Linked DNA regions of Homo sapiens. The protein of the gene in region 2 interacts with the protein of the main gene of each other region in a biochemical or structural test. Each region holds a gene or a part of one and is shown on either strand. Other genes may lie near its edges.

Region 1 (7,036 bases), on a different chromosome or scaffold from region 2:
TGTTAAGTGTCTTGTGTCTTTCCAGAGAGGCAGTTTTTTTTATTTGCTTGTTTGTTTAGTAGTCTTTCTACTAAAGGGATTTAAGATGTAACCTACAGCATATTGGTGAAAGAAAATACAACTGAAACTGAAATTGTATGACAATTGACAATAAACAAATTATAACTAATGTTGGAATGAAAATACCAGAATTTAGATTTACAATTAAGTGTTATCTTATTCAGAGATTCAGCGTAGTTATTTGAAGTTTTTCTTTTCTTTGAGACGAAGTCTCACTCTGTCGCCCAGGCTTGAGTGCAGTGGTGCCATCTTGGCTCACTGCAACTTCCACCTCCTGGGTTCAAGCGATTCTCCTGCCTCAGCCTCCCTAGTAGCTGGGACTACAGGTGCCCGCCACCATACCCAGCTAATTTTTGTATTTTTAGTAGAGACGGGGTTCTCCATGTTGGCCAGGCTGGTCTCAGACTCCTGACCTCAAGTGATCTGCTCTCCTTGGCCTCCCAAAGTGCTGGGATTATAGGCCTCAGCCACGGTGCCCAGCCTGAAGTTGTTCTTTCAATGAGTACCTTTTTAGGTGTGGCAGAAAACATTTTTTGGAACTTCTTTTAGAATCCACTTTGGAGCCTGTGATATTCTTCTTCTTTTTTATTTTGAGACAGAGTCTCATTCTGTTGTCCAAGTTGGAGTGCAGTGGCACCATCTCTGCTCACTATAACCTCCACCTCATGGGTTCAAGCGATTCTCCTGCCTTAGGCTCCCAAGTAGCTGGGATACAAGTGCGCAACACCATGCCCGGATGATTTTTGTATTTTTAATACAGACAGGGTTTCACCATGTTGGCCAGGCTGATCTCTAACTCCTGACCTCAGGTGATCCACTTGCCTTGGCCTCCCAAAGTGCTGAGATTACAGGGGTGAGCCACCGTCTCTGGCCATCCATCTTCATTTTTTTGAGAGCAGATTTGATTTTAGGGAATAACAGTTCATTTGAATCCAAATAATTTAGGGAATTTGGACTCAAGTCTGATAAGAAAGATAAGGCAATCAGGTTGGTGATACTACTGTTTTAGGTCAGATAGGAGTTATAACTATAAAGTAACAACACATAATTTTTTGTGTGACTTCTTGAACTGGACCTGAAGTCTACTTCCAAAAAAATCTCCGAATTTTATTTTATTTATTTATTTATTTTGTAGAGATAGGGTCTTACTGTGTTGCCCAGGTTGGTCTCAAACTCCTGGCCTCAAGCAGTTCCCCCACCTTGGCCTCCCGAAGTGCTGGGATTATAGGGATGAGCCACCACACCCAGCCCCTGAATTTTATTTTCAAGAATGAAAATAAATGAATAGAATATTTCAATGAATAAAATTCATTCATTGAAATATTTGTCAGTTTCCGAATTTTATTGCTCTAAAGTGTGGTATACTTTGTAACATTTACAAATTATTTTAAGCCTATATTATTTTAATTTATACTAAGTATAGTAAAAAAACAAGTAGAAGCCTGTGTGATAACCAACTATGAATCAAAATAGAGTTTTACAAATATGCCTTTCCGTTAAAGGGTAAAGGGAACTAGACTAGGTCTTGCAGTTTTAAGGAACTTTATGCATTGTCTGTGAGGGGAAATGAAGCAAAATTGTTTAAGAATACATTGTTGCAAAGCATTGATTTTGGGGTTTTGGGACAGAAGGGGAGAATCTTTGTGGTGAGTTTAAGGAAATACAAACAGGAACTTAAGTGCCTTTCCTCTGGGGTAGGGTTCTTCCAGGCCCTTGCTGTTGATTAGAGGAGGTGGGACACTGGTAACCATGAAATAGGAGGTGACAGTTGAGAATTACTCTTAGATCTTATTCAACTGTTTATTCAACAGTGTTTATTGAATACCTACCATGGGCCAGATAGCTAGGTTCTGGAAATAGAGTGCTAAACAAGACAGAAACAAGACAATCCATTCTCTCCTGGAACTTACAGCCTAGTGGGTTTAATAACTACATTTTGTGGATTGCTTGCTATGTTCTAGCATTGTGCTGTGCACTTTATCATCAGCATAAAAAGTATATAACAAAACCTTTGGTAAAAGGATAGCAAAACTTGCTAAGAAATCAAATACAACTTCCTAAGTGCTTTGTGGAACAAGATTATTCTAGTATAAAAGAAATAAGTGAAGCTAACTTTTTTTAACTATTAATGGCCATTCACCATTTTAAATCTATTTTTTTTTTTTTTTAGAATGAGCCAGGGCACAAAGAAATAAAAGTGCATGATTATTAAGTATACAAGGGTGACTTTCTTGACTCCTGACCAGTGAGAAGGGTGTGCCCTTTACTTTTCTAGTAGTGATAGTAGGTCCATGCTGAGCTTTCCATTCTTTTCTTTGTAACCAAAAGTAAGGTAGTTGCCTGTATGTTACCAGTGCCAGTCAATAAGAAGTCTTTAAACATAATTAACGGCAAGCATTTGTATTATTGATGTATAAAGATTGTTTTAAGAAAGAGTTCATTCGAAGCTGGCTATAAAGTCATTTTATTATCAAATCCCATTTTTCCACTTTTTTTTTTTTTTGAGACGGAGTCTTGCTGTGTTGCCCAGGCTGGGGCGCAGTGGTGCAATCTCGGCTCACGGCAGCCTCTGCCTCCCGAGTTCAAGCAATTCTCCTGCCTCAGCCTCCTGAATAGCTGAGATTACAAGTGCGTGCCACCATGCCTGGCTGATTTTTGTATTTTTAGTAGAGACGGGGTTTTACCATGTTGGTCAGGCCAGTCTCGAACTCCTGACCTTGTGATCTGCCCACCTTGGCCTCCCAAAGTGCTGGGATTACAGGAATGAGCCACCACACCCAGCCTCCACTGGTTCTTCTTTAAAATAAGCTTATCCTGGATCTCCAGGTTTTCAGTTCTGCCAGTTTGATTTCTTGATACTGAGGAGTACTCTGCTTTTGATTTCTTTCTAGCCCAGTCTCAGAGATGATGTGTTGACTTTGCCTTTCATGGGCAAGAGTGCAGATATTGCTGAGCCCCTGGGGCCTAGAATTCAAAGATGGAAGAATTCACTGGGGTAGATCACCCTCACTTTAGAATTAACTGACATTTTTAGGGATTTTTGCAGTTTATAAAGTGTTTTCATTCAAAGCATTATCAATCAGTTCTCACTAGCTCCATGGAGGCTCATATTTATTAACTCCATTTTATAGATGGGGAGCTGGACTCATTCATTAAAGGAATGGCATACTTGTCAATGCTACTTTTAGTAGTCTCCTTTCTGATAGATGTGGGCTGCTGAGGTTGCGCGGTGGCACCTTCTCTTATGCAGTTAACCTCCTCTTGTGAAAAAGGGGTTGCTGAGTCACTCGGAATAGAGCTTGAGTGTAGGAAAGCAGTTCCACCAGTGTCATTGCCCAGTTTATGTGAGGGGTAATGACTTAACCCATTTAACCCATTAGAGTCATGTCTCTTCCTCAGAACTGATAAATCAAAAATGCACTCATTGCCCAGATTAAAATTTTTTCTGAAGGAATTATTAGGCAGTGCAAATAGTTAATTCCTGAATTTATGAATCCTATTGGATTGAAATTCTTCAGTGTACATTTATGTAAAGTTGGGACTGTCTGTACATGTTTGTGTTACATAAGTATAGGATATAAATAGAAATAACTGCCTCTCCAGCCCTTTGAAAATACATTAGATTTTTGCTTTTTGCAGTAAAATTTGGGGTAAAACTGATTTGTTCTTATCTAAGAGGTATAATTACTGCAGTGCTCAGAAAAGCCTCATTATAAAGTGGGCTCCCCTGACTTGGAACTTAGGGATGTCTTCTCATGGCTGCTATGGAAGTCATGCAGCTGTTTCGTCAGGAAAATAACCAAAAACTTCTTTAAACTTGGAAATGTTTTTGTAAAAGAAACTTTCAGTATTCAGAGTAGTTTGTCTTTCACAGTGCTTCCATAAATTAAGCACAGGCACAACTCGTTTTATTATGCTTCACAGATAATTGCTTTTTTTTTGCAAATTGAAGGTTAGTGACAACCCTGTGGTAAGCGAGTCTTTTGGCACCATTTTTCCAAAAGCATGTGCTCACTTCATGTCTCTGTGTCACATTTTGGTAATTCTCGCAATATTTCTTTCTTTCTTTTTTTTTTTTTTTTTTTGAGACGGAGTTCTGCTCTGTCGCCCAGACTGGAGTGCCATGGTGCGATCTCGGCTCACTGCAACCTCCGCCTTCCGGTTTCAAGTGATTCTCCTGCCTCAGCCTCCCAAGTAGCTGGGACTACAGGCATGTGCCACCACACCTGGCTAATTTTTGTATTTTTAGTAGAGATGGGGTTTCACCATGTTGGTCAGGCTGGTCTCGAACTCCTGACCTTGTGATCTGCCTGCCTTGGCCTCCCAAAGTGCTGGGATTACAGGTGTGAGCCACCATGCCCGGCAGTTCTGCTGGGATTACAGGTGTGAGCCACTGTGCCCGGCAGTTCTCGCAATATTTCAAACTTTCTCATTATTATTAAATATTATGGGGATCTGAGATCACTGATCTTTGATGTTGCTGTTGTAATTGTTTTGAGGTGTCTGGAACCATGCCCATAGGCAGACTTAATTGATAAACATTGTGTGTGTTCTGACTGCTCTGCCAACCAGCTGTTCCCTCTCTCCATCTCCTAAGGCGTCCTTATTCCCTGAGACACAATAATACTGAAATTAGGCCAATTAATAACACTACAGTGGTTTCTGAATGTTCAAGTGAAAGGAATGTTTGCATGTCTCTTACTTTAAATCAAAAGCTAGAAATGATTAAGCATAGTGAGGAAGGCATGTCGAAAACTGAGATAAGCTGAAAGCTAGGCTTCTTGTACCAAACAGCCAATTTGTGAATGCAAATGAAAAGTTTTTGAAGGAAATTAAAAATTATATTCCAGTAAACAAATGAATGATTAGAAAGCAACACAGCCTTGTTGCTGAGCTGGAGAAAGTTTTAGTGGTCTGGATAAAAGATCAGACCAACCACAACATGCCCTTAAGTCAAAGCCTAATCTAGAGCAAAGCCCTAACTCTCTTTAATTGTATGAAGTTTGAGACAGGTGAGAAAGCTGCAAAAGATAAGTTTGAAGCTAGCAGAGGGTGGTTCATAGGTTTAAGGAAAGAACCTGTCTCCATAGCATAACTTATAGTGCAAGGTGGCTGGGGGCGGTGGCTAACACCTGTAATTTCAGCACTTTGGGAGGCTGAGGCAGGCAGATCATCTGAGGTCAGGAGTTTGAGACCAGCCTGGCCAACATGGCGAAACTCTGCCTCTAGAAAAAATACAAAAATTTGTTTTTTATATTTTTTGGTGTTGTGGTGTACACCTATAGTCCCAGCTGCTTGGGAGGCTGAGGCAGGAGAATTGCTTGAACCTGGGAAGTGGAGGTTGCAGTGAGCCACTGCAACCAAGTGGCAACCGAGATCGTGCCACTGCACTCCAGCCTGGGCGATAGAGCAAGAGTACATCTCAAAAAAAAAAAAAAAAAATCAATAGATGAGAAATTGCTTCTCAGGAATGAATAAATAAAGTAGTTTCTTGAGGTGGAATCTGCTGTTGGGGAAGATGCTTATGAACATTGTTGAAATGACAACAAAGGGTTTAGAATATTACATAAACTTAGTTGATAAAGCAGCAGCAAGGTTTGAGAGGATTGACTCCCATTTTGAAAGTAGTTCTACTGTGGGTAAAATGCTATCAAACACCATTGCAGGCTACAGAGAAATCTATCACGAAAGGAAGAATAAATCAATGCAGCAATTCACCGTTGTCTTATTTTTAGAAATTGCCATAGTCATTCCAGTCTTCAGCAGTTATCACCCTGAGTAGTCAGCAGCCATCACCCTGAGTAGGCAGCAGCCATCAACACTGAGACAAGACCCTCCACCAGCAAGAAGATAATAACTTGCTGAAGGCTCAGGTGACCCTTAGCATTTTTTAGCAAAAAAATATTTATTTATTTATTTATTTTTTCTAGATGGAGTCTCGCTCTGTTGCCCAGCCTGGAGTGCAGTGGCACGATCTTGGCTCACTGCACCCTCCACCTCCCAGGTTCAAGCAATTCTCCCACCTTAGCCTCCCGAGTAGCTGGGATTACAGGTGTGCACCACCATGCCCAGCCAATTTTTGTATTTTTAATAGAGATGGGGTTTCACCATGTTGGCTAGGCTGGTCTCAAACTCTTGACCTCAAGCGATCCTCCTGCCTCGGCCTCCCAAAGTGCTGAGAGTAATAGGTATGAGCCACTGTGCCCGGCTAATAAAATATTTTTAAATTAAGGTATGTGCATATATATATTTTTTTGACATACTGCTAGTGCATACTTAATAGACTACAGTATCATGTAAATATAACTTTTATATGCACTGGGAAACCAAAAAATTTATGTCACTCATTTTTTTGTGATATTCACTGTGTTGTGGTTGTCTGGAACTGAACTCATGATATCTTTGAGGTACACCTGTATGTATGTGTTAAGGATTTACAAAATTAACCAGCTTTCCCGTGCAGTGTTCAAGTCTTTTAATAATTTATTATAGGGAAGAAGAAGTGGTGGTTTGTAAATTCTGTACTTGACAAATGGATACTGGGTTTTGGGCATGCTTGGCTCCAAGGCTGAATGTTGGGGGAAAGAAGTATAGGAGAGTGAGGAGTCTAGGATTTCTAAGTTTTGGCCTTGGGCAAATGGATATATTTTAGTGCCATTTTCTGAACTTTGTGTTACAAAGTTACAAAAGAGTGTTACAGGGTACAAGATTGTAGAGAGAAAGGGGAAGGAGCATAGGTTCATGGTAATCTCCTTGAGGACAGGACTCATTATACCTTGAGTGCCTACCATGTATGGTTTGCCGTAAGTGCTGGAGATGAAATGTGAACAAAAGAGACAAAAATTTCTGCCTTAAGAAGCTATATTCTGGCCAGGTGCAGTGAGTGGCTCACACCTGTAATTCCTGCACTTTGGGAGGCCAAGGTAGGTTTCCTTGAGCCCAGTAGTTAGAAACCAGCATCCTGGGAAAAATGGGG
Region 2 (7,588 bases):
TTTCCTGTAATTGACTTAGATCTTGAAAGAGTTCTAAAAAACAAGTCAAAGACATAAACATAAGATTTGCAAATCTTTAATCTTCATTAAATGGAAATATTTGTCATGAAATTGGTATTAAATATAAATTTAATTTCAAGAGACGCAGTCAACATAAAAATAAAAAAAAGAGGCATAACTTAAATATCTCAATAATACTGCCTACTTTTCATGCCTATTAAGCAACTCTTTAAGAAATTATTTTAGTCAACTAAAGAATAAAGTCAATCATCTTTTCTTCTTTTTAACAAACAGCTTAATAAATAAGCTCAGGGATACCAGAATTCACAAAAAGGCTGAGGTGAATATGTGTCTGTTCACTGAAATCTTCCTTAAATATATTTAACTCTTGCTAAAATAGTAGTAGGGGGAAGATTAGAAAGACTGAAAAGCATTTTATTTATATCTTCTGAATCTTACATAAAATATATAATGGTACATGGTACAACTGTCAAAGTATTATGTTTTCAACTTCAATACCTCGAAACTAAAAGAAACCACTTCAAATACAAGTTTTTAGAGGAAAATTTCTACATTAATAGGTTTATAAAAGTCAGAAAGATAATTCTTTGGCACCAGGTTCTCATCAAGTTCTAAACTATATGGTCATGTTAGGGAGGGAGAGAGGGAGGTATTTAAATGGTATGAAGATTTGAGGAAGTTTCAGAATTCAGTATATCTAATTAAAATTGCCAACTAAACTTTGATAATTAAATCTAAGTATATTAAGTTTATTATGAATGTCCTCATATGGCTAAAATAATTTGTAACATACTGACATCCTAGCAACAGTTCATAAAAAGAATCTGCAAACTAATTTCCCAAATAGTATTATAATTATTAAGGAGGCCTTAAGTATGATTCAGTGAACACATTATGGTCGATAAACAAGGTATTATGACCTCACAATTTAGTCATCAAAATCACCCTTGAAAATTCTGTTAATAGTAGATGGTTTTAGTGTAAAGGAGGTGGGAAACCAAACAATCACTAATACTGTTTAACTTGTAATAAAGGAGAAAGAAAAAAGTAAGCAGTGTACATAGCTGCTGAATTTGTCCCACTGTATTGGATATTTTTAAATTGTTATCTTAGTGAATGGGGTGAGTTATATGCCCCATGGACAAAGGTATTTAAACACAAAACAATGATTAAAAGAAGGTTGTCATTGAGAAGTTTTTATTTCCTTCTTTCATTACTTTGTGATAGGACCATAAAATAGTCTCCCATGCAAACTGCCGCATTATGTAAATCGTTCCAAGTTAAAGTCTTAGTTAGATTCAGTAATTTCAAAGTTTATTATTTTTAAGATAAGACTGAAGTGCTCCTTTTCTTTTAGCAGGGTGGAGAGTGTAGGTAAAAAAATGGGGATTCAGCCCAAAATCAAACCTCACCTTCTGAATCATGAGCCAGATCTCTGTTAATGAATTTTCTTTTCCTGACATTTGTTGGTTTCTCGTTACAATTTCTCCCACGCTGACTCTACAAAGGGAAAGATAAAATCCTTTAAAAGAATGTAAACCTCAGATCACACACACGCACACGCGCGCGCACACACACACACACAGACATGCATACATAAGTCTAATGGATCTTCTCTGAATAGAAAAATAGAAGTCCATAGTATCAACTCTAATATTCATTTTCTCACTTATTTGACAGTGAAAGCTTATGTTAAGCAGGCAGGGAGAGTTGCTTCCCAGTGCCGATCTTAGCACATTACTATTTATCAATCATATATTCATGGTATCTCAGCATCAAAACAACCTGAAGCATTTACACTTAAAGTTGTTTTTAGGCTGGTTCAATGCTAGATTAAAACAGTGGGTTTTATTCTCTCTTGGACAGCCCCTCCTCCCCACCCCACCCCCACAAAAAAAAAAAGCAAAAAGAGTAGAGAAATGAAAAAAAAAAAAAAGAGAAAATGAGAAAAAAAAAAGAAACAAAAACACCCCATATAAACAAAAAGTGTCAGCATTTGTCTCAACTTCATTCTTTTCAATGTGGCAGACAAACCCAGCCAAAAACTTTGAGTGCAGCAGCTGCTGCTGCCCTCCATCTCCTCTTCCACTCATGTTGGGCACTTTAATCAGAAAAAGGGGTCTTAAAAACAAAACTATGCCTTATCCAAATCACTGAAAGGTAAGCTCATTTTGAAGACTGGGCTTCTAGAAGCAGAGTCGCCCTACAGTGGCAACAAAGCAGATAAGTATCTGCAATCCCAACCCCCGTGCCCCCTCCCTTCTCATTTTCTCCCTCTCCCCACCCCCGACGGAGTCAAGTTTATAAACAGCAACTTTCAAACTGATCACTCACATTGGTGACCATGTAAGGCACTTGCTGGTCATAAAATCCATCCATGCTGCTGCTCTTCGCAAATCTCAGCTCAGTATTTTATATTTTGAGCATTTAGCTGGAGATTTCCTCAGGATCTGGACTTCTATCAACCTAGAGGGGAACAAGATGGCTTTTAGGCTTAAAAAAAAATCATGAATGAAGCTCTTGAATTTGCATAGCTAATTACCCTCCGACAGTCCCATTCACAAAAATAACCCTCCCTACACCGCCTCCTTCACCTGGATCCAAAGAGAGCCAACAGAGTTCACAATTTACATATTTTCGGTAGTAGCAAAAATCCGAACAAGAGGCGATGTATTTATTTACACTCTCGATGTTTCCCTGCGCGGTCGGTGTACCCCGGGCAGCTCTGATTCGCAAACGTGTGCAAAACTAGCAATGGCGATCAACGAGACTTGCTTTGCACCTAACGGGACTAAAGAGACGGAGACACCTCTTTCATCAGGATAGTTTTTGCGACCCACAACCATGCAATTATCTGGAGAGACATAAAAAGTTGTTGGAAAGACCCACCTGAAGGCCACGCTAGGCGAAAGGCTGCAAAAACTTCCCTCCAAATTTAATAAAAACATTAATTATAGCCCAGCACTTCCCCCTTGGAAGCCGAAAGCGCCTCTGACAGAGCTCAATTCGGTGGTTTTTCCTCTACTTCTCCTCCAGGGGCCTCCAATCCAAACTGATGGATCGCTGCCTCCCATTGGCTCCGCGTCTCTTTCACAAGATCAGATTTCGGGCTGTCAATCAGGCGGCTTGCTGCCCCTTCCCGCGGGTCTCCCTCGCCCCTCTGCCCTAGGGGGTGCTCGGCCGGTAGGCGCTGGGTCCTCAGCCTGGAAGCGCCACGGAGAGACTCGATTTCCTCTGTAACCCGCTGCTTATTGTTAAGGCGCCTGGGGATACTGAAACCGTGTGTTTCGAGTCGCCAGTTCCCATTATTGGGGTGTTAGGTCCACTATTGGGCTGGTTTCCTTAAAGTACTGTTGTGCGGTTCTGGTATACCCTTAGAGCCGCGATCCACAAAGCCCGTACCGCCTTATTCAGCTGCCCTCCCCTCAGGATCTCCAACCTCTCTACTCTTGCCCTGACTAGGAGCTCACCTCGCTCTCTATCCTCATTCCCACTCAGCTTTTGGCCCAATTTATTTTCCCGTTTTTCAAAACCCACCATCACCATTATGGTTTATCGAAACATTTTTTAAACAGTCATCCTCAACTAAAATTAGATCCTATCGTTCGTGGGACAGAAACATAAAGAATCTATAAGGAAGGCACCTAGGAGATGCAGAATTGCTGATTAGCAGAGGTTGTGATGGGAGGACAACAGAGCAAGCTAGGTGAAAAAGTATAAGTCAAAATGGTCCCTACGTGTGCACTGGGAAAAGGTACTTCCAGTCCACTGTGGCTGTGGGGAGGAGGAGGGAGTGCTTGGGGTTGCTCGTATATCCTAGAACCCGCACGTTTCCTGAGCTTTTGTTATGTATACACGGAGGCGGAGGGTGTCACTTACTGTACTTGACGCTTTCACTTCCTCTCCAGCTTTTAAACAGCCAGAGCCCAGGGTTGGGGGCGAGCGGTGAGATGGCTCGGGTTTCAAGGACAATAACTAGGACGTTAAGCAGTGAGGGCTGCATCTCTGAAGCCACTTGCCCTGATCCTCCTATGGGACTCAGAACAGTAAAGCGTCACTTTAAGGAGCCAGTGTCCAACAGCGGACGGGAGGCCGCGGGGATAGGACCAGGGACTCAATGCTGTTGAAATTCATTTGTGACCAGAACTAGTGACCAAAAGACGTTTCCGGCAGCTGTTCCGCCCGTTAGGAAACGTGCTGCAGTTCTCAATTTCTATTTGAAAGTTTCCTTCCTTAAATAGAACGTTATGGAGACACATTAAAATGGAGTGTAAGAGCGCACAGCACTCAACCCCGGACCTGGGCAGGAGAAAGATCTACTTAAAAAAGAAGCAAACAAACAAACAATCAACACTTATTACTGGGAAAACAACCAATAACTATGGACAGCAAAGACAGACCCCGCGCATTCCCGGAAACTACTAAATCGGAGTTCACAACGCGCGCACCTATAAGCATTTTGAGCGGGAACTGCATTTTAACCCCGGCCAAGGAGAGATTCCAGGAAGCGCCTGGGCCCCGAGGCTGAACAGTGAAGCTCATGGGTACTATCTGAGGGTGCAACCAAGCAGGGGGTCAATAACAAGGGTCCTCCACCACCCTGCACTCCTGGAATAACCCAGCGCCTGTAATCTGAGCAACAGTTTCCAAAGACCTTCTCTGCAGCCCGAGCCTGACGGGTATCCAGGGTAACCGCGAGGGGGCGGAGCTTCGGGTTAGGTCCCGGCGAGGTTCTTCCCGCAGCCAATAACGAGCCGTAAATCCCCAGCCCATTGTTGTTTATTGCTGACCCCTCAGCGCTCCGCTAGGAGATTGGCCGCTTTAGGGAAGGGGGCGGAGTCCCGCCCGCCCCAACAGCCACCTTTCGTCTCCATTCACAAAATTCCGGCCCTTCTTGGTCACGTGGTTGGGGGCGTGGAGGGGTAGAGGAAATGACACAACAAAGGCCCAAGTATCCCAAACCACAAAACTTTTTTCAGCTCGCTGCCTCCTCTTTGTCCTGTCCCTGAAACAGATACTAGATGAGGAAAAAGAGGTTGGGGTCTGGGAGTAATAACAAGAGAGAAAAAAATTAAGACCGAAATTAAAGGAAGGCTCACGTGGGGATAATTCCGGCGTGCACTGCTTAGACAGCTTTTGCACTAGAGGAAAGAAAGAATTGAGAGTGGGGAGAAAGTCTTAAGGACTGGGAACTTTTGCTTGCTGCTTCAAGTCATTGCTTTTAAAGGTGCAAACTGTTCGACTGTAGATGGATTTCAGTTTTTTCACTTAACATTCTGTAATTTTCATTTCTACCTTTTTTTGTATCCCACAGTGTCTTGTTAGTTTTTTAAAGCTTTTATGTATTATTAGTATTATATATTTTTAGGAATATTGATGGTTTTCGCTGGCTGATAGCTTTAGTTTCCATTTCCAAAGACTTATCACTCCTTCCCAGGCCCCCATAAGCTCTGCGCCCCTTCTCCCTCCCTTTAGTGGACTGGCACTCTCAGGCGCTGCGCTGTTAAGCCTCAGATTTTACTACGTATTGCGGTGGCTTCATATTTTCCCTTTTGAGTTCTTTAAACGAACTCATATCTTTTAACTCTTTGATCTTCATAGTAACTGAAAATGATGTTCTCGTGTGAATAAGCAGCTAGTCTCGCTACAGCTCGGTTTTGTTGAAACAGCCTAAAATTTTGAGATAAATGTGTCCCTCTTGACTGTGAACGATTGAACCACCCTCTTTTCTTTCTCCCACTTTCTCTTCTGTCCTTTCTCTGCATTGATACTTACTGAAACACTATCTCTTCTGTCCTTTCTATGCCTTGATACTCAGACACTAGCTTCTAGTTTGGCAGTTGTTTATCTTCTCTGCTTGGCACTGGGAAAAACCAATAGACCCACTTGCTGAAGACAGTGGAAGGGCTGAAAATTTGTTTTTCAGAAAATGTAAGATCTTGGAAAATATCTGCAAAGGCAGCTGTTCTGTCTACAAGACAGGAACATAAAAAGCTGGACAAAGTTTCCACTACTTTTTGAGAATGTCTTTAAAACATCAGTTTAGTAAATGCCAGCCCTTTTGAACGGAAAATTTCATTTTGGCAGGATTTCAGGCATAGAATGGCAGAGCAGAGGCCAAGAGGCTTTGACATTTATTTGCTTGTATTTTGAAATCCCATTTGGATTTTGAAATAAGAGTTCTTGAGAGAAAGCTACCCCCCTCCAAAAAAAAGTCCATTTTTGAGTTTGGAAAGTTTTTAGGTTGCATGTAAAACTATTTAAATTTTTATATTTCCCTTGCTGTTATTTAATAAAGTAAAATAATATTCATTAGTGACTTCTCTACAGTTAACTTACTATGGCATTATGAAGAAATTGCACGTTGTTAAAGAAAGTGAATTTCTAAAAGCAGTTACAGAAAGGCAACAAGCTAAAATGGCGCTGCTTGTTTTAAATGGTTGCTATAATTAAAATCAAATGAAGTTTGCTCAAAATTGAGTAGAGTATTAAGTAAAACAGTAACTTTTAAAATTTGTTGTATTAAAACAGTATGTAAGGCAAATTGTTAAAGATCTAGTTTGCACAGTTACATCAAATAGATAAGAAAAAGATATAAAATTAAACAGCAAAATTGGCCAAGAAAATGAACAAGTGAAAATAATTCCAAAGGAGAACATAGAGTCCTCACAGGAGGGTGAAAGATAATCAGTGGCTTCAGGAACACTGTATGTGAGGAGTAGCAGAAATTTGAGAGGAGGGTGGAGCCTGGGAAGAAGGTAAGGGTATCAAGGAAACTGATACTATGTAGCTGTATACTCTCTCACTCTCAATACTGCCATTTTCAGCTGGTGACTATCTGTAAACTCCCTCAAGTAGAGGAATTGCAAACAACTTATAAATGTGGAAAAAAAAACTTTTAACTGCACCCCAAATCAGTACATTATACTGTACACTTAAAAAATAAAGAATTTTTTTATTTTTATTATTTATTTATTTATTTATTTATTTATTTATTTATTTATTTTGAGACAGAGTCTTGCTCTGTCACCCAGGCTGAAGTGCAGTGGCGCGATCTCGGCTCACTGCAACCTCTACCTCCTGGGTTCAAGTGATTCTCCTGCCTCAGCCTCCCAAGTAGCTGGGAGTACAGGTGCCCGCCACCATGCCCAGCTGATTTTTGTATTTTTAGTAGAGATGGGGTTTCACCATATTGGTCAGGCTGGTCTCAAATCCTGACCTTGTGATCCGCCCACCTTGGCCTCCCAAAGTGCTAGGATTACAGGCATGAGCCACCGCGCCCTGCCTTAAAGAATGTTTTAACTCATCAATTTGGAAGGAAGTTTCTAATATACTTAGAGTTGGATCCTAGGATAAGGGCACTCATGTATATTGCTGGTTGGAATGTGACTTTTTGAAACCTTTTGAAGGTAAGCTTACAATGTCTACTAGACTTTAAAATGAACATCTATTAGACCCTAAAATTATATCCAATAATCCTCATTTGGGAAATCTATACTACAAAAATAAAAGCAATGGTGCATGAAGACATTTATTGAAATATTAGGTACCAAGGAAAAAATCTGGC

Evidence for each region. The genes of interacting proteins can lie anywhere in the genome.
Region 1: of the proteins of ETV1 (region 2) and MAPK14, one has a biochemical effect on the other in vitro, tested with the Homo sapiens proteins (one study listed by BioGRID).

Annotation. Positions count from the first base shown.
Region 1 is NC_000006.12:36,030,772-36,037,807, forward strand, and holds part of MAPK14 (mitogen-activated protein kinase 14), read left to right. Parts: intron 1-7,036. UniProt on the Homo sapiens protein: Serine/threonine kinase which acts as an essential component of the MAP kinase signal transduction pathway.
Region 2 is NC_000007.14:13,986,653-13,994,240, forward strand, and holds the start of ETV1 (ETS translocation variant 1), read right to left. Parts: upstream 3,015-7,588; 5' UTR 2,911-3,014; intron 2,813-2,910; 5' UTR 2,616-2,812; intron 2,488-2,615; 5' UTR 2,401-2,487; coding exon 2,356-2,400; intron 2,232-2,355; exon of another isoform or gene 2,192-2,231; coding exon of another isoform or gene 2,162-2,191; exon of another isoform or gene 2,115-2,161; coding exon of another isoform or gene 2,028-2,114; intron 1,522-2,027; coding exon 1,434-1,521; intron 34-1,433; coding exon 1-33. UniProt on the Homo sapiens protein: Transcriptional activator that binds to DNA sequences containing the consensus pentanucleotide 5'-CGGA[AT]-3'. Required for olfactory dopaminergic neuron differentiation; may directly activate expression of tyrosine hydroxylase (TH).